Regions from separate parts of the Homo sapiens genome. Here regions 2 and 3 are each linked to region 1. Evidence: fine-mapped expression QTL. A gene starts in region 1. Each other region holds a variant in brackets. All regions are shown on one strand. Distances are between the middles of the regions.

Region 1 (8,179 bases):
AAACTAGGTAAAGAATACGCAGGTCTGTGCAGGGGCAGCTTGAGAGGGGGTTGCCTAAAGGGAAGGCCTGGTGGAGGAGCAGATCTAAGTGCAAAAGCTCTGAGACTGGACCCTGCCTGATGTATTAAAGCAACCTGGGAGAGGTTAAAGCAAAAGCGAAGGGAGGCTGGGTGCTGTGGCTCATGTCTGTAATCCCAGCAGTTTGGGAGGCCAAGGTGGGTGGATCACCTGAGGTCAGGAATTCGAGACTAGCATGACCAACATAGTGAAACCCCATCTCTACTGAAAGTGCAAAATTAGCCGGGTGTGGTGGTACAGGCCTGAAATCTCAGCTACTTGGGAGGCTGAGGCAGGAGAATCACTTGAACCTGGGAGGTGGAGGTTGCAGTGAGCCGAGATCGCACCACCGCACTCCAGCCTGGACAACAAAAGCAAAACACTGTCTCAAAAAAAAAAAATAGCAAAGGGAGCAGGGTGCAAGGAGGTGAGGTGGGGTGAGGGAAACGTCTCACTAACTGCCTTCCCATCCGTCGGATATTGGAAACCCCATCTTCCACGTCCTCAGACCAAAACCCCAGCAGATCCAACCCATCTCAGCAGATCTAATCCATCAGCCAGACCCGTCTGCTCTTCTGCTTAGATCCTGAATTCCTCCACGTCTCCGCTACTCCCCACTGCCCCCAGACCCTCCCTGAATTCCCAGCTCAAGACACCATCTGGATGACAGCAGCTGCCTCCCTGCTCTCTGGATTTCCATCCTCAACCCCAGGTCTAGTCTCTCTGACAGCAGCCAGAGGGCGCCTGTGAACATCTGAGTCAGTTCACGTCCCTCCCTCCCTCCTCTGCCCTGAATCCTTCTTGGCTCCCACCTCCTTTAGAGGAAAAGCCCAAATCCACCCATGATCCATAAAAAGTTGCGCTATCTTGGTGACTCACGCCTGTAATCCCAGCACTTTGGGAGGCGGAGGCGGGCGGATCACGAGGTCAGGAGATCGAGACCATCCTGGCTAACACAGTGAAACCCCGTCTCTACTGAAAATACAAAAAAAGTAGCCAGGCGTGGTGGCGGCTGCCTGTAGTCCCAGCTACTCGGGAGGCTGAGGCAGGAGAATGGCTTGAACCCGGGAGGCAGAGCTTGCAGTGAGCCGAGACTGTGCCACTGCACTCTAGCCTGGGCAACAGAGCAAGACTCCATCTCAAAAAAAAAAAAAAAAAAAAAAAAACTTGTGCTATCTGCCATATCCCCTTCTGCCCTCCTCCCAGGCCCTTCCTCACACGAAGCAAGTTCCAGCCTCAGGTCCTTTGTACCTGCTGTTTTTGCAGCCTGGAACATTGTTCACAACTTAACATCATTCCCTTCCTATCCTTATTCAAGTCTCAGCAGCGCTCCTTGAACAGCAGATTTAGGGTTGTACCTCCATATACAAGCTCTCTCTCTCTCTGTCTCTCCCTCTCTCTCTCTCTCTTTCTCTCTTTCTCTCTCTCTCTCTCTCTCTCTCCCCCACGCCCTCTTTTTTTTTTTTTTAGACGGAGTCTCGCTCTGCAATCTCAGCTCACTGCAACCTCCACCTCCCGGGTTCAAGTGATTCTTGTGCCTCAGCCTCCCAAGAAGCTGGGATTACAGGCATGCGCCACCACACCCAGCTAATTTTTGTATTTTTAGTAGAGACAGGGTGCCTGATCAACAGGTGAAATCCCGTCTCTACTAAAAGTACAAAAAATTAGCTGGGCGTGGTGGCGCATGCCTGTAATCCCAGCTACTCGGGAGGCTGAGGCAGAAGAACGGCTTGAACCTGGCAGAGGTTGCAGTGAGCTGAGACCGCACCACTGCCTTCTAGCCTAGGCAACCTGGGTGAGACTCCATCTCAAAAAAAAAGAAAAAAAAGAGAGAGTCGTGCTCTGTTGCCCAGGCTGGAGTGCAGTGGAGCAATCATAGCTCACTGTAGCCTCCAATTCCTGCACACAAGTGGTCCTCCTGCCTCAGCCTCCTGAGTGGTTGGAACTACAGGTGCGCACCACCATGCCCAGCTACTTTTTTGTAGGGAGGGGGTCTCACTGTGTTGCCCAGGCTAGTCTCAAACTCCCAGGCTCAAGTGATCCTCCCACCTTGGACTCCCAAAGTGCTGAAATTACAGATGTGAGCAACCACACTGGCCCTAAACCTATGCTTCCTGATGCCTGCACAAGCACATATCCCGAGGGTCTCCATCTCACACACACATTGCCTCATTCATGCATTCAACCACAGACACCTTGAGTGCCTATTGTGTGCCAGGGATGCTGTTTTAGGCAATGAGGACACAGCCTTAACCCAAACAGACAAAATTCCTGCCCTTGCAGAGCTGACATTCAAGTTGGGAGAACAGAGAAATAAGTCAAACAGCCGCTAGGTAGGTCAGAGGGTAATCGTGCTTAGGAGAAAAATGGAACAGGCAAGGGGGTGACAGTCCCGGAGGTGGGGGACATTTAATAGAGGAGTCAGGACTGGGTGTGCTGACTCACGCCTGTAATCCCAGCACTTTGGGAGGCCGAGGTGCCTGTAATCCCAGCACTTTGGGAGGCCGAGGTGCCTGTAATCCCAGCACTTTGGGAGGCTGAGGTGGGAGGATCACTTGAGGCCAGGAGTTTGAGACCAGCTTGGCTAACGTGGCGAAACCCTGTCTCTACTGAAAATACAAAAATTAGCCAGGCGTAGTGGCACGCGCCTGTAGTCTCAGCTACTCAGGAGGCTGAGACACAAGAATCACTTGAACCCGGAAGGCAGAGGTTGCAGTGAGCCATGATTGCACCACTGCACTCCAGCCTGGGCAATAGAGCGAGACTCTGTCTCAAAAAAAAATAAAATAGAGGAGTCAGGAAAGGCCTCACAGAAGAAGTGACACTTGACTGGAACAGTGCCTCATGCCTGTAATTTCAGCACTTTGGGAGGCCAAGGCAGGAGGATTGCTTGAGCCTAGGAGTTTGAGACCAGCCTGGCCAATATGGTGAAAGTCCATTTCTACTAAATATAAAAATAAAAATAAAATAAAGAATAAGGGACACTTTCACAAAGACCTGATGGAAGAGAGAGAAGAGGAAGAGCATTCCAGGCAGAGAGAACAGCAGGTGCAAAGGCCCGGAGATTGCACCCAAGAAATGGCAGAAAGGGGCCAGGCACGGTGGCTCACGCCTGTAATCCCAGCACTTTGGGAGGCCGAGGCGGGAGGATCACCTGAGGTCGAGAGTTCAAGACCAGCCTGGCCAACATGGTGAAACCCCGTCTCTACTAAAAATACAAAAATTAGCTGGGCATGGTAATGCATGCCTGTAATCCCAGCTACTACTCAGGAGGCTGAGGTGGGAGAGTCACTTGAACTCAGGAGGCCGATGTTGCAGTGAGCAGAGATTGCGCCATTGCACTCCAACCTGGGCGACAGAGCAAGGCTCAAAAAAAAAAAAAAAAAAAAGGCCAGGTGCGGTGGCTCACGCCTGTAATCCCAGCACTTGGGAGGCCAAGGCAGGTGGATCACGGGGTCAGGAGATCGAGACCATCCTGGCTAACACAGTGAAATTCCGTCTCTACTAAAAATACAAAAAAAAAAAAAAAAATTAGCCGGGCATGGTGGCGAGCGCCTGTAGCCCCAGCCACTCCAGAGACTGAGGCAGGAGAATGGCGTGAACCCGGAAGGCGGAGCTTGCAGTGAGCTGAGATCGCGCCACTGCACTCCAGCCTGGGTGACAGAGCGAGACTCTGTCTCAAAAAAAAAAAAAAAAAAAAAAAGAAATGGCAGAAATGTCTATGAGGCCGGAAGAGAGAAGGGGGAAGCAGGAGGAGGTAAGAAGTGTCAGGGCAAAGTGTGAAGGGTCCTGTGGGCCCGGAGGAGGACTTGGGTTTTACTCTGAGTCAGGCAGGAGCCATGGAGGGTTCTGGGCTGGAGATGGCCACATTTACTTCTGGACTCAGACACCAAGCAGGGGCTCACAAGGATCCGGGGGTAGGGTCCTCTCTTTGTCCCCGATCACTGACATGCCCCACCCCCCACAACAGAGATTGAGCAACCCCCCAGAACTGGGACGTGTGTATAACACCCGCTGCCTTTTACACTCTCAGCCTGGGGTGGCGGGGTGGCCTGGGGGCCCCCAAGCCAAGCTGTGGTCGGAGTTTCCCCACAGTGAGAATCAACCTCCACCTACCTTCCCACCCTCTCACCTCTGATGCCCAAGACCCTGAATCCAGCGAAGCTCACAGAACACACAAGAAGTCCAAGGAAGAGCCGAGGGTCCAGTGGGGCCTCTGAGCTAGAGACGGGGAGAGGGCAGTGGGACAGAAGGAGAGAGGAGGCTTGGTAACCACTCCCCAGCCCCCAGAGCCTGGGAGTGGAGCTGGGATGCTGGGCCCAGGAGCCCAAACTATAAATATTTAGCATTTCCCGAATGAGAAATGAGACAGAATTGCCAGACCCCCCTGCCCAGGCCACCAGAGCCTGATAACACAGGTCAGTGTCCTGGACATCCCTCCCTTTCCCCCACACCCTCCACTGCAGAGCCCAGAGCGTGGGAGGCTGCAGGCCCTGGGGCAGCCAGGCGTGATCCCAGCCCCAGACACGCACACACCACACATAGAAAGAGGAACATCACTGGGGACTTACCGTGTGTAGGGCTTGGCTCTAAACTCTCCACACCTTTTACGTATTTGATCCTTACAACCTGAGCTGGATTCTGTATGTACCCTCATTTTACAGCAGGGAAAACTGAGGCTCAGAGAGGGTAAGCAACTTGCCTGCGGTCACACAGCCAAAAAGAGACCAGGATGGGAGCCAGCCAAGGTAGCTTGACTCAGAAACTCACACATGTACACCACAGCTGTCACACACATATGGGCACATAACAGAGTGGACACAAACACACACACACACATTTGCACGCACGCACACATTAACACCCAGCGAAAGTCTGGGTGCAGTGGCTCATGCCTGAAAGCCAGCACTTTGGGAGGCCGGGGCAGGTGGATTACCTGAGGTCAGGAGTTCGAAACCATCCTTGCCAACATGCTAAAACCCCGTCTCTACTAACAATACAAAAATTAGCTGGGCATGGTGGCATGCGCCAGTAATCCCAGCTACGCGGGAGGCTGAGGCAGGAGAATTGCTTGAAGCCAGGAGGTGGAGGTTGCAGTAAGCCGAGATCGAGCAACCGCATGCACTCCAGCCTGGGCGACAAGACTGAAATTCCATCTCAAAAATAAATAAATAAATAAATAAATAAATAATAAATAAATAATAATAAAGTGAGGAATTAATTAATTAAAATAAAAAATAAATATAAAAGACACAGCTGTAAATTTTTAAATTGTGATAGAAACAATATATTCTTAAAGTGAAAACCCTACCTCAGTTACATGTGATTTATGTTTTTTGGATTAATCTGGATTTTATAATTAGAAATAAAAATGTAAGGCTGGGCGCGGTGGCTCACGCCTGTAATCCCAGCACTTTGGGAGGCCAAGGTGGGCAGATCACGAGGTCAGCAATTCGAGACCAGCCTGGCCAAGATGGTGAAACCCCGTCTCTACTAAAAATACAAAAATTTGCCGGGTGTGGTGGCCCATGCCTGTAATCCCAGCTACTCAGGAGGCTGAGGCAGGAGAATCGCTTGAACCCGGGGGGCGGAGGTTGCAGTGAGCCACTGCACTCCAGCCTGGGCGACAGAGTAAGACTCTGTCTCAAAAAAAAAAAAAAAAAAAAGAAAAGAAATAAAAATGTAAGATTTTGAGTCCACATAATTATTTGTTGAAAATAATACAAGTCAGTATAATAGAGAAGCATTCATATATTCAACACTGTGAGACAAAACACCAGAGACCTTGGATTTGATAATTGATCTGATATCCTGGACAGTATTCATATGTACAGTGATAGCTATCTTTCTTTGGTGTTTTTTTTGTTTTGTTTGTGTGTGTGGTGTGTGTGTGTGTGTGTGTGTGTGTGTGTAGTTTTATGGTTCTGAGTTGGTGGCCAGTAAGTTCCATGTAGTGTTGGCACTTATTTAATTAACTATTCATGATTTTGTTAATAGCTTGTTATAGAATTCAGGCATATATTTTTCAGCATAAGAAGCCAAGCACACCAGCTTGTCATTGGAGAGAATATATTAAGTGAGAAAAACATTCAGGAATCAGAGCTTTAACATGTTAAAGTTAGTGCTAAACATTGTCATATTGGATCTGAACCTATCCTAATATATAACCATAAAGCTTGACTTCTGCATTGGAACTATGCTTTCATAAATAAAGGATATCTCATTGATTAAAAAAAATTTTTAAAAAGACACAGCTGGAAACATAACAGTTTCAGGCAACAACTGTATGTTCCAAATATGGTCACACACACATCACAACTTAAAGGGAAATGGGGTGGGCTGAGTGGGTCTTTATCTGTGTGTCAGGCTTGTCCACATCCTGGTTCTTGTGATCACACAGTAGTGCACAGATACAAAACAGGTACACACAGTTGACACCCGGAAACCTATCCACCGCACCACAGAGGTCACCGTCTGTCTCCCACACACTCGGTCACATTTTCACACAAGTCAAATCACACGAGGACGGAACTGGGGGAAGTAACCATGCAGTCATTTCCCAGGGGTACAAAGAAACTCACATAGAGCCCCACAGAGCCCAGGCCCAGGGTCTGAGACCTGTCCAAAGGCCCCACCGACGACCAGCCACACGCCGGGAGAGTCACCTCCTTCCCCTGGTCTGCACCATCCTGAGCTCCCGAGTAACTCGAGTGGACTCCAGGGTTGAAAAAGGAAATGGTCGTCCCAGATCTGAGAGAGGCTGCCAGGCTGGGCTCTGGGCCTGGGTTGGGGCCCCCACACTGGGCCCCTCGGCCCCCCACCCTCAGCCCCCTCTGGCTTCCCCATTGGCAGTAGAGAGGGAGGGAACTTCATAAGTCACAGAGAGGGGCTGAAGAATACAGAGAGTCAGACAGATGGAGATGGGAGAGGCATAGGGAGATGGGAGAGACATAGGGAGATGGCAGAGAAAGGGAGAGACGGGGAGATGGGGAGAGACAGAGAGAGATGGGAAGATGGGGAGAGACCACAGGGAGGCAGATGAGAAGAAAGAAACAGGGATGGGGCCAGACACAGAGAAAGGAAACTTCTTTAGTTTCCATCTTCAGTTATAAATGATGAAAGAGACAACTGATGACAGAGACAAAGTTACAAGAGGGAGAAAGAGACAGGGGGAAGACGAGGGGGAGGGGAGACACATCTGGGGGAGAGGAGGAAGAATTGGGGTGCCAGAGAGAGCAAGGAGGGAGAGGAGGCCGATGGGGGAGGAGAGAGTAATGTTCAGCCCAGTGAGGGGGTGTCCCTTTCCCCCACTGCAAGGTTTTGGGGAAGAAGCCAGAGGCCTGAGGCCAAGACTGAGGCTTTGAGCGGAAAGAAGGAGGGGGCGAGTTATTCACGAAACGCCCGCCTTGCCCTGAGTTTCCAGAAGGTGATGTGGAGTTTCCATCCCTCAGCCTGTCTGCAGACAGGGGTACCCGGGGAGGACAGCTGGCCCAGAGGAGTTGCGAGACTAAAGTGAATGATTGCCACAGTCATTCCCTCCGGTGGCTTCTCCCCAAGTACTTGGCGCCAGAGCGCCCAACATTGTGCATACATGGTCGCTCCTAATTCGTGGGCCCGGGGGACATTATCAGCCTTACTTTGGGATATTTTAGGAGCCTCGGAATGCAGAAAGTGGTTTTAGCCCAGCTGGAGGAAATGGGCCGAAGCGGGATTCGAACCGGCGGATTCGTTTCTCTGCAGCCCGGAGCCGCGTAGCCCCGCCCCGGTCTCCCTAGAAACAGGCACCCGTGTCTCCATAGCAACCGCTCCATCTGATTGCCCCTCCCCGCTCCCAGAGGCCACCTAGTGCGCAGGCCCGCCTGATGTCGTCCCACGCCGTGCCGGCTCTCAGGCGCCGGAAGTGAGCTGCGCAGCGCCGGAAGCGGCGGACGCAGGAGGCCTCGTGGAGGACACAGCAGCATGGGACAGTCAGGGAGGGTAAGGCCCGGCAGCTTGGGAGGCAGGTGGCGCAGGTGGGGTCCCGGCCGAGGTCGCGGCGCTGACCCTTTGTCTCTCGTCGCCGCAGTCCCGGCACCAGAAGCGCGCCCGCGCCCAGGCGCAGCTCCGCAACCTCGAGGCCTAT
Region 2 (8,179 bases), 24 kb after region 1:
TCATTTCCTGGAAAGAAAGAATCAGAACCTGTTAATGAGGAATGCTTTGGAAAGAAGGCACCAAGAAAGGAAATATTATTTTTGGACATGTATTAATATATAATATGCATTTATGTAATATATGTGAGATGTAACATATAAATATATTTCTTGGCTGGGCACTGTGGTTCGTGCCTATAATCCCAGCAGTTTTGGAGGCCAAGGCAGAAAGATTTCTTGAGCCCAGGAGTTCAAGACCAGACTAGGCAACATCATTGAGACCCCATCACTACACACAAAAAATTGCTGGGTGTGGTAATGCACGCCTGTAGTCCCAGCTACCTGGGAGGCTGAGGTAGGAGGATTGCTTGAGCCCAGGAGGTCAAGGCTGCAGTGAGCTATGATTGTGCCATTACACTCTGGCCTGGGTGACAGAGCAAAAACCCTGTCTCTAAAAAAGAAAGAGGCTGAGCACAGTGGCTCACGTCTGTAATCCCAGCACTTTGGGAGGCCAAGGCAGGCAGATGACCTGAGGTCAGGAGATCAAGACCAGCCTGGAAAACGTGGTGAAAACCCATCTCTATTAAAAATACAAAAATTACCTGAGCATGTTGGTGCATGTCTGTAATCCCAGCTACTCAGGAGGCTGAGGCAGGAGAATCGCTGGAGCCCAGGAGGTGAGGCTGCCATGAGCCAAGTGCTGGGATTACACAGGTGTGAGCCACATCAAGGTTTGGGTGCAAGAGTACATCTGGTTATAGATTACAGAAGCATAATACCCTGACCCCATTAGATGTTATTTTATGTGTAGGAAAAGGTTTGAACCAGGTCCTTTTTTTTTTTTTTTTTTTTGAGATGGAGTCTCACTCTGTTGCCCAGGCTGGAGGGCAGTGGCACAATCTCGGCTCACTGCAAGCTCCGCCTCCTGGGTTCACGCCATTCTCCTGCCTCAGCCTCCTGAGTAGCTGGGACTACAGGCACCCGCCACCACGCCCAGCTAATTTTTGTATGTTTAGTCGAGATGGGGTTTCACCGTGTTAGCCAGGATGGTCTTGATCTCCCGACCTTGTGATCCGCCCACCTTGGCCTCCCAAAGTGCTGGGATTACAGGTGTGACCCACCCGTGCCCGGCCCAGGTCCTTTTTTTCTTTTTTCTTTTTTTTTTGGGGGACGGAGTCTTGCTCTATTGCCCAGGCTGGAGTGCAGTGGTGCGATCTCAGCTCACTGCAACCTCCGCCTCCTGGGTTCAAGCGGTTCTCCCGCCTCAGCCTCCTGAGTAGCTGGGATTACAGGCATGCACACCACCACACCCGGCTAATTTTGTATTTTTAGTAGAGACGGGGGTTTCTCCATATTGGTCAGGGTAGTCTCGAACTCCCGACCTCAGGTGATCCGCCTGCCTGGGCCTCCCAAAGTGCTGGGATTACAGGCATGAGCCACCGCACCTGGCACGCCTTTTTTTTTTTTTTTTTTTTTTTGAGACAGGGTCTTTCTCTGTCACCCAGGCTGGAGTGCAGTGGCACGATCACAGCTCACTGCAGCCTCAACCTCCCCAGGCTAAGGTGATGCCCTTGCCCTGGTCTCCCAAAATGCTGGGATCACAGGCATGAACCACCGTGCCCAGACTCATTTAAGGAATATAGTGACTCGGGCAAGGGACATGGTGTGCCCTGTGCTCTGTCCTGTTTTGTCTTCAAAGCCTTGTTCTGTAGAGCTGCGCAGACGTGTCTCACGTGTCTCAGAGTCAGGGGCTTTGTGAAATTACGCTGGAAAGCAGAATTGAGCAAACCCAGCTTAACATTAGTTACTTTTTCTCACATTTTCACAACAAAATATCACAGACTAGGAGGCTTAAACAGCACACATTTATTTTCTCAGTTCTGGAGGCTGGAAGTCCAAGATCACAGTGTCGGCAGGGTTGGTTTCTTCTGAGGTGGGGGCACCTTCTCCCTCGGTCCTCACGTGGCCTCCTCTGTGTGTGTCTATGTCCCAATCTCTTCTTCTAAGGACATCAGTCATATTGGATTAGGGCCCACCCTAATGACCTCATTTAAACTTTTTTTTTTTAATTATTTTTTTTAAAGGTGAAGTCTCACTCTGTAGTCCAGGCTGGAGTGCAGTGGTGCAATCTCAGCTAATGGCAACCTCCACCTCCTGGGTTCCAGTGATTCTCCTGCCTCAGCCTCCCGAGTAGCTGGGTCTACAGGCATGTGCCACCACACCTGGCTAATTTTTGTATTTTTGTATTTCTAGTAGAGACGGGGTTTCACCAAGTTGGCCAGGCTGGTCTCAAACTCCTGATCTCAAGTGGTTTGCCTGCCACGGCCTCCCAACGTGCTGGGATTACAGGCATAAGCCACCACACCTGGGTTTAATTTTCTCTCTAAAGGTCCTGTTTCTGCTGGGCACAGTGGATCACGTCTGTAATCCCAGCACATTGGGAGGCCAAGGTGGGCGGATCCCTTGAGGTCAGGAGTTCGAGACCAGCCTGGCCAACATAGCGAAACCCCTGTTGTCTACTACAAATACAAAAATTAGCCAGGTGTGGTGGCAGGCATCTGTAATCCCAGCTGCTCGGGAGGCTGAGGCATGGCAATCCCTTGAACCCGGGAGGCAGAGGTTGCCATGAACCAATACTGCGCCACTGAACTCCAGCCTGGGCGATGGAGTGAGACTCCTTTTTTTTTTTTGAGATGGAGTTTTGCTCTTGTTGCCCAGGCTGGAGTGCAGTGGCATGATCTTAGCTCACCGCAACCTCCACCTCCCGGGTTCAAGTGATTCTCCTGCCTCAGCTTCCCTAGTAGCTGGAATTACAGGCATGTGCCACCATGCCCAGCTAATTTTGTATTTTTAGTAGAGACGGGGTTTCTCCATGTTGGCCAGGCTAGTCTTGAACTCCAAACTCAGGTGATTCGCCTGTCTTGGCCTCCCAAAGTGCTAGGATTATAGGTGTGAGCCGCCGCACCCGGCCAAGACTTTGTAAAAAAAAATAAAAATAGGCCATGCGCGGTGGCTCACACCTGTAATCCCAGCACTTTGGGAGGCCGAGGTGGGAGGATCACTTGAGGTCAGGAGTTCGAGACGAGCCTGGCCAACATGATGATACCCCATCTCTACTAAAAATACAAAAATCAGCTGGGTGTGGCCAGGCATGGTGGCTCACGCCTGTAATCCCAGCACTTTGGGAGGCCAAGGTAGGTGGATCACCTGAGGTTGGGAGTTCGAGACCAGCCTGACCAACATGGAGAAACCCTGTCTCTCCTAAAAATACAAAATTAGCTGGGCGTGGTGGCGCATGCCTGTAATCCCAGCTACTCAGGAGGCTGAGGCAGGAGAATCGCTTGAACCCAGGAGGCAGAGGTTGTGGTGAGCCGAGATCCTGCCATTGCAGTCCAGCCTGGGCAACGAGAAGGTAACTCTGTTTCAAAAGAAAAAAAAAAAAAACAGCTGGGCGTGGTGGTGCGTGCCTGTAATCCCAGCTACTAAGGAGGCTGAGGCAGGAGAATCACTTGAACCCAGGAGGCGGAGGTTGCAGCGAACCAAGATTGCGCCATTGCACTCCAGCCTAGGCAACAGAGACTCCATCTCAAAAAAAAAAAAAAAGTAAATAGAGATAAAAAGAAAGAAATACTAAATTGATGGACATGCAGATGTGGTAACAGCCAAAAAACAGGGGCAGAAAGGAGACGTGGCAATGTCCTTACTGTGGTTTTTCTAGGGAAGTAGATGGGCACCTCAGCCTTACATGTTTATTTCATTTAAAAAACAGCCTTCC[A/G]CTATGAACTATGGTATGGTGGTTCCTCAAAACATTAAAAATAGAACCACCAAATGACCCAGCACTTCCACATCTGCTTTATACTTACAAGAATTGAAATCACTGGAGACCAGCCTGGGCAACAGAGTGAGACGCCATCTTTACAAAAAATAATCATATATTAAAAGGAAAAAAAAAGAAGCCAGGCACGGTGGCTTACACCTGTAATCCCAGCACTTTGGAAGGATGAGGAGGGACGATCATTGGAGCCCAGGAGTTTGAGACCAGCCTGGGCAACATAGCAAGAACTCATCTTTACTAAAAATAAAAATAAAAATTAGTTAGGCGTGATGGTACATACTTGTAGTCCCAGCTACTCCAGAGACTGAGGTTGGGGGATCTCTGGAGCGAAGGAGTTCGAGGCTGCAGTGAGCTATGATCGCATCACTGCAGTCCAGTCTGGGTGAAAGAACAAGACCCTGTCTCTAAAAAGAAAAGACAAGGTTTCTAATTCTTACACCAAAATACATCCTCAAGTTGTTCTTGGTGAAGGATCGTATACCTGAAAATGTGACCACTGAAAAAGTGGGATTAAAAACAAGGAAATTCAGGCCAGGCGCGGTGGTTCACACCTGTAATCCTAGCACTTTGGGAGGCTGAGGCAAGCGGATCACCCGAGGTCAGGAGTTCAAGACCAGCCTGGCCAACATGGTGAAACCCCATCTCTACTAAAAATACAAACATTAGCTGGGTGTGATGGCCCATGCCTGTAATCTCAGCTACTCAGGAGGCTGAGGCAAGAGAATCCCTTGAACCCAAAGATGGAGGTTGCAGTGAGCAGAGATCGCGCCACTGCACTGCAGCTTGGGTGACAGAGTGAGACTCCATCTCCAAAAAAAAAAAAAAAAAGGAATTCAACAAGTTGGTTAGATTCAAAAAACACAGTTTACAAAATCACAGCCAATACAAATGGAGCATCTCTCCATAGGCAAAGGACCATGGTTTAGAAATCAAGAAAACATCCCATTTATATTAGTAATGAAGGGACTAAATACTTAGGAATCAAGTTATGAAGTCTGCAAGATCTGGATGAAAAGCTGTGGACACAAAGGAATTCCTGAACAAACAGGACAAACCCTGTTCTTAGAAAGGAAGGCTTGTCATTAACATGTCAATTCTTCCAGAAGTCTGCAAAGTTAATGAAATCCCTATAAAACACCTGCTTGACTTTTAGCGGCTGTGCCAGTTCTAAAGTTTCAATCCAGTCATTCAACTCCTAGAAAAGTAGCCTAGACGTGGATACACATGTGTATACAAATCTATGTCCAGCCATCCCTCGGTATCCCCAGGGGATTGGTTCTAGGACCCCATGTGGTACCAAAATCAGAATGTGCTCAAATCCCTAATATAAAATGTCATAGGCCGGGCATGGTGGCTCACACCTGTAGTTCCAGCACTTTGGGAGGCTGAGGCGGGTGGATCATTTGAGGTCAGGAGTTCAAGACCAGCTTGACCAACATGGTGAAACCCCGTCTCTACTAAAAATACAAAAAAATTAGCCGGGCGTGGCGGCACATGCCTGTAATCTCAGTTACTTGGGAGGCTGAGGCAGGAGAATCACTTGAACCCGGGAAGCAGAGGTTGCAGTGAGCCAAGATTGTGCTACTGCACTCCAGCCTGGGCGACAGAGTGAGACTCTGTCTCAAATATAAAATAAAATAAAATAAAATAAAATGGCATAGTATTTGCATATACGCTACACATATTCTCCTGTGTACACTACTTTTTGACAGAGTCTTGCTTTGTCACCCAGGCTAGTGCAATCTCGGCTTAATGCAACCTCCACCTGCTGGGCTCAAGTGATCCTCCCATCTCAGCCTCTGGAGTAGCTGGGACTACAGGTGTGTGCCACCATGCTCAGCAAATTTTTGTTATTTTTTGTAGAGAAGGTGTTTCGCCATGTTGGCCAGGCTGGTCTTGAACTCCTGGCCTCAAGTGTTCCTCCTACCTTGGCCTCCCAAAGTGCTGGGATTACAGGCATGACCCACTGCGCCCGGCCTCTCCTGTGTACTTTATGTCGTCTCTAGATTATTTGTAATACCTGACATAACGTCTACACGTTGCTTTATTCTCATGGATTCCATGTAGTACTTGGTAAGTGGCAAATACAAGTTTTGCTTTTTGGAACTTTGTGGAATTTTTCTGAATATTTTAAATCTGTGGTTGGTTGAATGCCAGAGGTGGAACCCTTGGATACAAAGGCCTGACCTGCATCACAATTCAATCTACTGCTCTTGAGACTGTAGTTGTTTCCAAACAATATAAAGAAAAAAAGTTCAAATAAAGGCTTTCTAAGAGATTTATTGTATAACATAGTGAGTATAGTTAATATATTCTTGTCCAGGCGCAGTGGTTCATGCCTATAATCCCAGCATTTGGGGATGCCAAGGCAGGTAGATCGCTTGAGCCCAGGATTCTGAGACCAGCCTGGGCAACAAAGCGAGATCCTGTCTATAAAAAAATATAAAAATCAGCTACCAGGCATGGTAGCTCATGTCTGTAATCCCAGCACTTTGGGAGGCCGAGGCAGGCAGATCGCTTGAGCCCAGGAGTCTGAGACCAGCCTGGCCAACATGGCGAAACCCCATCTCTACTAAAAACATAGAAATTAGCCAGGCCTGGTGGCAGGCCTGTAATCCCAGCTACTCGGGAGACTGAGGCATGAGAATAGCTTGAACCCAGGAGGCAGAGGTTGCAGTGAGCCAAGATCGCACCACCGTACTCCAGCCTGGTGACAGAGTGAGATTCCGTCTCAAAAATAAATAAAAATAAAAATAATGATTAGCTGGGTATGGCGGCACATGCCTGTGGTCCCAGCTACTACAGAAGCTGAGGTGGGAGGATCACGTGAGGCCAGGAGTTTGAGACCACCCTGAGCAACACAGTGAGACCCCATCTCCACAAAAAAAATGTAAAACTTAGCTGGGCATGGTGGCATGCGCCTGTAGTTCCAGCTACTCAGGAGGCTGAGGCAGGAGGATCACTTAAGCCCAGGAGATCAAGGCTGCAGTAGAACATCGCTGCACTCCAGCCTGGGCAACAGAGCAAGATCCTGCCTCTAAAATATATATATATTTTTTTTAAAAAGGACAAAACTGATACACATATTAATGACATGGATGAATCCCAAAGGCATTTATGCTGAAAGATCTGAAACACAAGAGCCCATGCTGGCCTGAACAGGCAGGTGTCATCTATGGAGACAAAACTGGATGGGAGGCTGCCCAGGGACTGGGAAGGGGGAGATCAAGTGGGAAGAGGCACAAGGTGACCTGAGGTGACAGAGACATTCTCTATCTTGATAAGGATATAGGCTACAGTGCTATGTTCACTTCTCGAAATTTAAGCTGAACATTTAGGACTCGCATATTTCATATTCTACCCCAATTTTCAAAAATAGAGGAACAAGAGAGATTCCTAGGTAAGACAACCTTCGAGGTGCAAGACAGTTTATTTTTTTTTCGAGACAGTCTCGCTTTGTTGCCCAGGCTGGAGTGTGGTGGTGTGATCGTGGCTCACTGCAGCCGCCGCCTCCCAGGTTCAAGCAATTCTGCCTCAATCTCCCAAGTAGCTGGGATTACAGGCATGTACCACACCTGGCTGATTTTTGTATTTATACTAGAGATGGGGTTTCACCCTGTTGGCCAGGGTGGTCTTAAACTCCTGACCTCAGGTGATCCACCTGCCTGGGCCTCCCAAAGTGTTGGAATTACAGGCGTGAGCCACCGTGCCCGGCCCAAAGCAGTTTATTTTTGAGACAGGGTCTCGCTGTGTTACCCAGGCTGGAGTGCAGTGGCACAATCTCGGTTGCAGTGAGCCGAGATTGCTACTGCAACCTCCACCTCCTGGGCTCAAGCGATTCTCCCACTTCATGCTCCTGAGTAGCTGGGACTACAGGCACGTGCCACCATGTCCCACTAAGTTTTGTAAAGGCAATCTTAATAGACACTATCACCAGGCGTGGTGGCTCACGCCTGTAATCCCAGCACTTTTGGAGGCCAAGGTGGGTGGATCACCTGTTGTCAGGAGTTTGAGACCAGCCTGGCCAACATGGTGAAACCCCATCTCTACTAAAATTAGCTGGGCGTGGTGGTAGGCGCCTGTAATCTCAGCTACTCGGGAGGCTGAGGCAGGAGAATCGCTTGAACCCAGGAGGCGGAGGTTGCAGTGAGCCAAGATCATGCCATTGCACTCCAGCCTGGGCAACAAGACCACAACTCCATCTCATTTAAAAAAAAAAAAAAATTGACACTATTGGCTGGGTATGGTGGCAGATACCTGTAATCTAGCACTTTAGGAAGCCAAGCGGGAGGATCGCTTGAGGCCAGGAGTTTGAGACCAGCCTAGGCAATATAGTGAGACTGCATCTCTACGTAAGTAAAAATT
Region 3 (8,179 bases), 91 kb after region 1:
TCACTTTACTGCAGTGGTCTGGAACCAAACCCACAGCATCCCCACTGTACACACAGTACCACGTAATAACCAGTGATGAAGGGCTTTGGACAGGTGCTGCTCTCAACATATCTGTACTGATAAGCTCAGTCTTCCTAACACCCCTGTCGAGCAGGCAGCCCCACCCCCTTTTTATAGATGAAACACCAAGGCACCAAGAAGTTCAATAACTTAGCCATACGGCTGGCAAGTAGGGCGGCATTTGAAACCCAGCAGTCTGTACCCCTAGAATTCTACCACAGGGGAGCAAAACAAAAGAGGTAAGTCAATTTTGCCTTATTCAGTATGTACTCAGTAGTAGCCAAGGAACTGGAGTTAAGGAGTTCAAGACCTAGCTTAATCCCATCACAGAATGACTAGCAGTAAGAAAGCTGTGGTAGTTACGAAAGCTAATCAGTTGTGCAAAGGAGTCTGCTAGCATCAGTGTTAATCCAGGCTGTACAGGGGAAGAGCTGGCATGCAAGCATTTGAGTCTACTGTGCTCCAAGCTGCAGATACAGTGAATACGGCAGACACGCTCTGGTAACAGACCCTGAAATAATCACTAATTTCAGTGTTATAATGGCACCATGCGGGATACACCGACAAAATTCAACACTCTTTATTGTGGAGAAGCAAGCCTAGCTGTCTGAGAGCAGGCTTAAGAATGAATTAAAAGGCCAGGCACGGTGGCTCATGCCTGTAATCCCAACACTTTGCGGGGCTGAGGCAGGCGAATCACTTGAGTCCAGGAGTTCAACACCAGCCTGGCCAACACGGTAAACCCCGGTTTCTACTAAAAATAAGAAAAAGTTAGCCGGGCGTGGTGGCACATGCCTGTAATCCCAGCTACTCAGGAGGCTAAGGCAGGAGAATCACTTGAACCCGGGAGGGGGAGGTTGCAGTGAGCCAAGTTCGCACCACTGCACTCCAGCCTGGGCGACAGCACAAGACTCTGTCTCAAAAATAAAATAAAATAAAATAAAATAAAATAAAATAAAATAAAATAAAATAAAATAAAAACAATGAACCGGCTGGACACCATCATACCTGTAATCCCAGCATTTTGGGAGGCTAAGATAAGTGGATCACTTGAGATCAAGAGTTTGAAACCAGCCTGGTCAACATGGCAAAACCCAGTCTCTAATAAAAATACAAAAATTACCTGGGCTTGGTGGCGGGCGCCTGTAATCCCAGCTACTTGGGACACTGAAGTAGGAGAATTGCTTGAACTCGGGAGGTGGAGGTTGCAGTGAGCCGAGATCACGGCCACTGCACTCCAGCCTGGGCGACAGAGCAAGGCTCAGCCTCGAGGGGGAAAAAGAAAAATTAGCTGGGCGTGGTGGTGCACACCTGTAATCCCAGCTACTTGGGAAGCTGAGACAGGAGAATTGCTTAAACCCGGGAAGCGGAGGCTGCAGTGAGCTGAGATCACACCATTGCACTCTAGCCTGGGCCACAGAGCAAGACCCTGCCTCAATTAAAAAAAAAAAAAAATCTAAGTTTCAAGTACTGTTGGATACCATGTTTATTTTTCATTTAATGAAATATTTTCAAAATGTAAAAAAAAAAAAAAAAGTCTGTGGAGTGAGTCATATAAACTACAATTTCAATGTCTACCACATGGTCAAAAGCAGTCCTCCAAAACTCCAATGCCTACAGTGAAGCAATCTGAGTGTAAAGAAATGTGGAACCCAGGGTCAGTGGTGGATTGTAAGGCTCACCTAATGGTATTCCAATTCAGCCAAACAAAATATTTGCACAGGGCCAACAGAGCCCCTGAGCCAGTGGCCTACTGGCAACCCCTGTTGAAGGGAAAGGCTTTGGCAAGCAGCAGACCTTAGCAGGAATTCCTGCTTCCTGGCAGTTAACTCCTGCAGCATCCACTTTTAAGAACTCTTGAGGAATAATGGCCGGGCCCTGTGGCTCACGCCTGTAATCTCAGCCCTTTGGGAGGCCAACGCAGAGGATTGCTTCAGTCCAGGAGTTCAAGACCAGCCTGGGCAACAAAGCAAGACCCTCATCTCTAAAAAAAAAAATTTTTTTTTTTTCTGAGACAGAGTTTCGCTCCTGTTGCCCAGGCTGGAGTGCAACGGTGCAATCTCGGCTCCTGGGTTCAAGCGATTATCCTGCCTCAGCCTCCCGAGTAGCTGCGATTACAGGCACCTGCCACCATACCTGGCTAATTTTTTTGTATTTTTAGTAGAGATGGGGTTTCGCCACGTTGGCCAGGCTGGTCTCAAACTCCTGACCTCAGGTGATCTGCCCATCTCAGCCTCCCAAAGTGCTGGGATTACAGACGTGAGCCACCGCGCCCAGCCTTCTAAAAAATTTTTTAAGGATTAACTTGGGCATGGTGGCATGTGCCAGCCACTCAGGAGGCTAAGGCAGGAGGATTGCTTGAGCTCAGGGGTTCAAGGCTGCAGTAAGCCATGACTGTGCCACTGCATTCCAGCCTGGGTGACACAGTGAGATCCTGTCTCTTAAAAAAAAACTGAAAAAAACAAGCTAAGTTAGCCACTAGCATGTGAACCTTTATGTGCCATGCATATTCTCATTTAACCCAATACCAGCTGAAAACCCATGTCATTATTCCTAGACTATGGATATAGAGGTGGCATACGCTTGTTTAAGGTCATTGAGCCAGTGGAGGTCATGTTTTCAAGAAGGCTGGGCAGGCTGGGCATGGTGGCTCACACCCGTAATCCCAACACTTTGGGAAGCTGAGGCAGGAGGATCGCTTGAGGCCAGGAATCGAAGACCAGCCTGAGCAACATGGCAAGACCCCATCTCTACAAAATAAAAAAAAGGAATAAAAAAGGAAGGCCGGGCCCAAACTTCTCTGAATTGGGTGTAACATCATGAAGCCAGGCACTTTCATAATTTCACTTCCATTCCATTTTAAATCAAGTTTTATTTTGGGAGAATACTGGCACAGATGATTCAAGAAGATATATACCCACTAACTGGTTAAGAAGTGGTTTGACTATAATCCCAGCACTTTGGGAGGCTGAGGCAGGTGGATCACGAGGTCAGGAGTTCGAGACCAGCCTGACCAACATGGAGAAACCCCGACTCCACTGAAAACACAAAAATTAGCCAGGCGTGGTGGTGTGCACCTGTAATCCCAGCTACTTCGGAGGCTGAGGCAGGAGAATCACTTGAACCCTGAAAGTGGAGGTTGCAGTGAGCCGAGATCACGCCACCGCATTCCAGCCTGGGTGAAAGAATGAGACTCCATCTCAAACAAACAAACAAAAAAAAGTAGTAGTTAAGGCATGATGGCTCATACTTGTAATCCTAACCTTTGGGACACAAAGGCAGGAGGACTGCTTGAGGGCAGGGGTTTAAGACCAGCCTGGGCAATATGGTGAAACCTCACGTATACAGAAACAAAAACTAAGAAAGTCATCTGGGCATGGTGGTGGGCGCCTGTGGTCCCAGCTACTCAGGAGGCTGAGGATCCCTTAAGCCCAGGAGTTCAAGGCTACAGTGAGTTATAATTGTGCCAGGGCACTCCAGCCTGGACAACAGAGTGAGACCCATCTCTAAAAATAAAAAGTGTTTCTTTTTTTGAGACAGGGTCTCACTCTGTCACCCAGGCTGGAGTGCAATAGCGCGATCTCAGCTCGCTACACACAGCCTCAACCTCTGGGGCTCAAGTGATACTCCCACCTTAGTCTGTTGAGTAGTTGGGACCACAGGCGCACGGCACTACTCCAGGCTAATTTTTGTATTTTTAGTAGACATGGGGTTTTGCCTTGTTGCCCAGGCTGGTCTCAAACTCCTGGCTCAAGAGATTCGTCCGCCACTGCCTCCCAAATTGCTGGGATTACAGGCATAAGCCACAGCACCCAGCCTTCAAAAAAAAAAAAAAAAAGAAAAGAAAAAAAGCGGGGGTTGAACCAAATATCCATCCCTCCCCAAAGACCCAAATCAGAACCGGACTGGCCCAACCAGGTCAGTTAACAAGCCTAAGGAAATAGAAAAATGGCAAAGAGTGCTTTCACAAATCCAGCTGGAAGTGTCCACGCCTGGTGAGGGTTCCTCTGACTCACGCACACCTCACTTGAACAAGTTTTCAGGAATGAACTGATGGCGTTCATGAACAAGGGGCTGGGACCAGTGCTCCCACTGATCCTTGTGCACGGAAGTTGGACAGAGGCATGAACTGCTAAAGCCAGGGCCTCCAACATTAGACACACACTAAAGAACACACCCATGAACACACACAAACACACACGAAAGTGTAGCCAGTTCTCATTAGCAAGACTTCCCTGATGCCCACGGCTCACAGGCACAGATTTACAGGAAAAGACCAACCATGCAGCCTTCACGCTTCCCGGGCCCTGCGCTGCAATGCACGGTTAAAGTTCCTGCCAAAACATGGACTTTCCCAAGGAGCAAGAACCACACAGTCCCAACTGACAGAATGAGTACCCCACGGAAGGCTGGGCTCTCGAACATGAGCCAGCCCAGCCCAGGCCCCGACGGGTGACATCCGTCTCTGGAGGCCGCCATCGAGATGCACAGCTTTGGGGGAAAGGCACTGAGGGACCCCCCACCACAGAAGCGCCCCCGGGGACCGGGCCGGACACCGGAAGTGGAGGCCGAAGTGCCGGTGCCCGAGGGGTGTCCGTTGGCCGCGGGCTGCCCACTTCCTGTGCGACCAAGCTGGAGTCAAGAGCCCGGCCCACCGCTGCTTGAAGAAGGGGACCCCGGAAACGAACCCAAAGCTTGCTGTATTTGGGGATCAAAAGAGAACCCCCACCCCGCCTAGTTTCTAGCCACCAGGGAGCTACG[G/A]GGGAATCCACGGTCCATTTTGGCGCCAAACAGCCCGGGCACGCGCGACCGGAAGTGCCACCCTGCCCGCGCCAACTGCCGCTGCGCGCCGCACCACCCCACGCATGCGCGCCCGTCTGTCAGCAGCGGCCACCGGCCACCCCGAGGGGAAGCGACCCCCCACCCAGCGCCCTGCCTGTCCCCCTGAGTCCGTGTTCCCCCCCATGGTACCTACCGCCTGCGGACATCGTCGGGCAGCGAGATGGCCGGGACGGCCAGTGTGGGCACCCGGGCTGGGGCGGTACGCGCCGGCATCTCGGAGGCTTCAGCAGACGCGGCGGCGGCAGCGCAGGCGCCCCGGCTTTTCGCGCGGAAACCGATGGGGAGGGGCGATGAGCGGAGGCGGCGTCTACCACCCCAGTCCGGGCGTGGGGGAGGAGGGGATGTACCAAACGGAGAGAGGCGATACCCTGTGCAGAAGGATGGAACGGAGCCGGCCATGCCCAGGGAACACGCATGCGCAAGGCGGGCACACACCCCCCCCACGCGGAGCAGTGGGCTCGTCCAAGCTCCACGGTTTGCTGGGAGGTGGGCACGGTGCCCGAGGCATTCATTCATTCATTCTTTCAGGTGTGATGGGGATAAAGCAGCGAGAAGCCCCCAAGGGTTTGTGAGAGCCCTTGAGTAAAGTCCTCAGTTCCAATCCAACCTCCATCTATTTGCTGGCTATACGACCTTAGGTGGGTCACTACGGCTCAGCCTCTGTGTCCTCATCTGTAAAACGGGGTAATTGCACCTACTCTAGAAAATCTTGAGTATACACAGAATTTGTAGCTAGTACCAAGAATCTCACAGTGTATAGAGGCCCATGCCACTTCTATACCCAGTGTGTGGGGGGTTTTTTGTTGCCTTTTTTAAGCACCACGTGGCTCACGCCTGTCATCCCAGCACTTTGGGAGGCCAGGGTGGGAGGATCGCTTGAGCCCAGGAGTTTTAGACCAGCCTAGGTAACATAGAGAAACTGCATCTCAAAAAAAAAAAAAAAGAAAGAAAGAAAGAAAGAAAAAAAGAAAAACAAAAATTAGCTAGTCGTTGTGGCATGTGCCCATAGTCCAAACTACTCCAGAGGTTGAGGCAGGAAGATCACTTGAACCGGAGAGGCAGAGGTTGCAGTGAGCCATGATTGTACCACTACATTCCAGCCTGGGAGACAGAGCAAGACCTTGTCTCAAAAAAATAAAAATAAAAAGTAAGAATAAATTAAGAAGCACCATGTCAGGCGCAGTGGCTCACGCCTGTAATCCCAGTGCTTTGAGAGGCCCAGGTGGGAGGATCGCTTGAGGTTAGGAGTTCAAGACCAGCCTGAGCAACATAGGGATACCCCATCTCTACAAAAAATACAAAGATTTGCTGGGCATGGTGACACACACCTGTAATCCTAGCTACTTGGGAGGCTGAGGTGGGAGGATGGCTTGAACCCTGGCAGTGTAGGCTGCAATGAGCCATGATTGGGCCACTGGACTCCTGCCTGGGCGACAGGGTAAGACCCTGCCTCACTCTGTCACCCCGGCTGGCGTGCAGTGGTGAGATCTTGGCTCACTGCAACCTCTGCCTCCCAGGTTCAAGCGATTCTCATGCCTCAGCCTCCCTAGTAGGCTGGGATTACAGGCGTACTCCACCACGCCTGGCTAATTTTTGTATCTTCGGTGGTAGAGACAGGGTTTCACCATGTTGGCCAGGCTAGTCTGGGACTCCTAGCCTCAAGCAGTCCACTTGCCTCAGCCTCCCAAAGTGCTGGGATTATAGGCCTAAGCCACCGTAACCAGCCAGAATTTTTTTTTTTTTTAAAGCACCAGAACATGGGGGAAAGATTGTGTCTTTAACAAATGGTGCTGAGAAAACTGTATAACCACATACAAAAGAATGAAGTTGGACCCTTACCTTACACCATATACAAAAACACAAAACTTATTAAAGATTAAACATAAGACCTGAAACTATAGTGCTCCTAGAAGAAAACATGGGGAAAAGCTTCATGACAATGGATTTGGCAATGATTTCTTGGATATGACAGCAAAACACAGGCAACAAGACAAAAGATAGACAAATGGGTTTGCAACAAACTTAAGGATAGCTATACAGCAAAAGAAATGACCAACAGTGAAAAGGCAACCTACAGAATGGGGAAAAAAAAAGTTTGCAAACTGTATTATCTGGTAAAGGGTTAATATCCGGAATATATGAAAAATTACAGCCAGGCATGGTGGTTCATGCTTGTGATCCCTGCACTTTGGGAGGCCCGGGTAGGCAGATCACTTGAGCCCGGTAGTTTTAGACCAGCCTGAGCAACATGGCAAAACCTCGTCTCTACCAAAAAAAGAAGAAAAAAATTATATAAAAAATAAATTACTACCCGTCAGGCTTGGTGGCTCACGCCTGTAATCCCAGCACTTTGAGAGGCCAAGGCGGGTGGATCACCTGAGGTCAAGAGTTTGAGACCAGCCTGGCCAACATGGTGAAACCCTGTCTCTCCTCAAAATATAAAAATTTGCTGGGCATGGTGGTGTGCCTGTAATCCCAGCTACTCGGAAGGCTGAGGCAGGAGAATCACTTGAACCTGGGATGCGGAGGTTGCAGTGAGCCGAGATTGCACCATTGCGCTCCAGCCTGCGCAACAAGAGAGAAACTCTGTCTCAAATAAAAATTTAAAAAATAATAAATTTCTACAATGCAACAACAAAAACTCGATTTACAAATGAGCAAATGGGCTGGGTGCGGTGGCTCACACCTGTGATCCCAGCACTTTGGGAGGCCCAGGCGGCAGGCGGATCACGCGGTCAGGAGATCGAGACCATCCTGGCTAACGTGGTGAAACCCCATCTCTACTAAAAATACAAAAAATTAGCCAGGCGTGGTGGCAGTCGCCTGTAGTCTCAGCTAATCAGGAGGCTGAGGCAGGAGAATGGTGTGAACCCAGGAGGTGGAGCTTGCAGCAAGCCGAGATTGCACCACTGCACTCCATCCAGCCTGGGCAACAGAGCGAGACTCCGTCTCAAAAACAAACAAAAAGAGCAAATGATTTGAATACATACTTTCCCAAAGGAGATATGCAAATAGAAAACAGGCATATGAAAAGATGCTCAACATCACTGGTCATCAGGGAAATGCAAATCAAAACCACAATGAAATATCCCTAAGACCCCTTAGAATGGCCACTGTCAAATAATAAGTGTTGGTGAAGATGTGGAGAAACTGGAACCCTTGTGCACGGTTGAGAGTCGAATAAAATGGTGGAGCTGCTATGAGAAACAGCATGGAAGTTCCTCAAAAAAATTAAAAATAGAATTATCATATGATCCAGCAATCCCATTTCTGGATA

The links. PIP is the estimated chance that this variant, and not a neighbour inherited with it, causes the effect.
Region 2: its variant is fine-mapped to the expression of ANGPTL6 in whole blood (TOPMed, PIP above 0.99).
Region 3: its variant is fine-mapped to the expression of ANGPTL6 in prefrontal cortex (BrainSeq, PIP 0.91).

The regions. Positions count from the first base shown.
Region 1 is chr19:10,098,379-10,106,557 of GRCh38, forward strand. ANGPTL6 (angiopoietin like 6) reads right to left here and starts at 4,300. Exons shown (of 6, transcript NM_031917.3): 1 at 4,190-4,300. It overlaps PPAN (peter pan homolog), which reads left to right and starts at 7,984. Exons shown (of 12, transcript NM_020230.7): 1 at 7,984-8,034; 2 at 8,123-8,179. The coding sequence starts at 8,017. PPAN-P2RY11 (PPAN-P2RY11 readthrough) reads left to right here and starts at 7,984. Exons shown (of 13, transcript NM_001198690.2): 1 at 7,984-8,034; 2 at 8,123-8,179. The coding sequence starts at 8,017. RefSeq lists silencers at 845-894, 8,131-8,179 and enhancers at 4,310-4,359, 4,430-4,479, 7,621-8,179, 7,861-7,910.
Region 2 is chr19:10,122,755-10,130,933 of GRCh38, forward strand. No RefSeq gene overlaps it. Among named protein-coding and RNA genes, the nearest start is that of EIF3G, 6.9 kb to the left of the region's middle. The variant A/G (reference allele first, on the strand shown) is at 3,755.
Region 3 is chr19:10,189,785-10,197,963 of GRCh38, forward strand. It overlaps DNMT1 (DNA methyltransferase 1), which reads right to left and starts at 5,169. Exons shown (of 41, transcript NM_001130823.3): 1 at 5,036-5,169. The coding sequence starts at 5,115. RefSeq lists a silencer at 4,873-5,112 and an enhancer at 5,373-5,602. The variant G/A (reference allele first, on the strand shown) is at 4,822.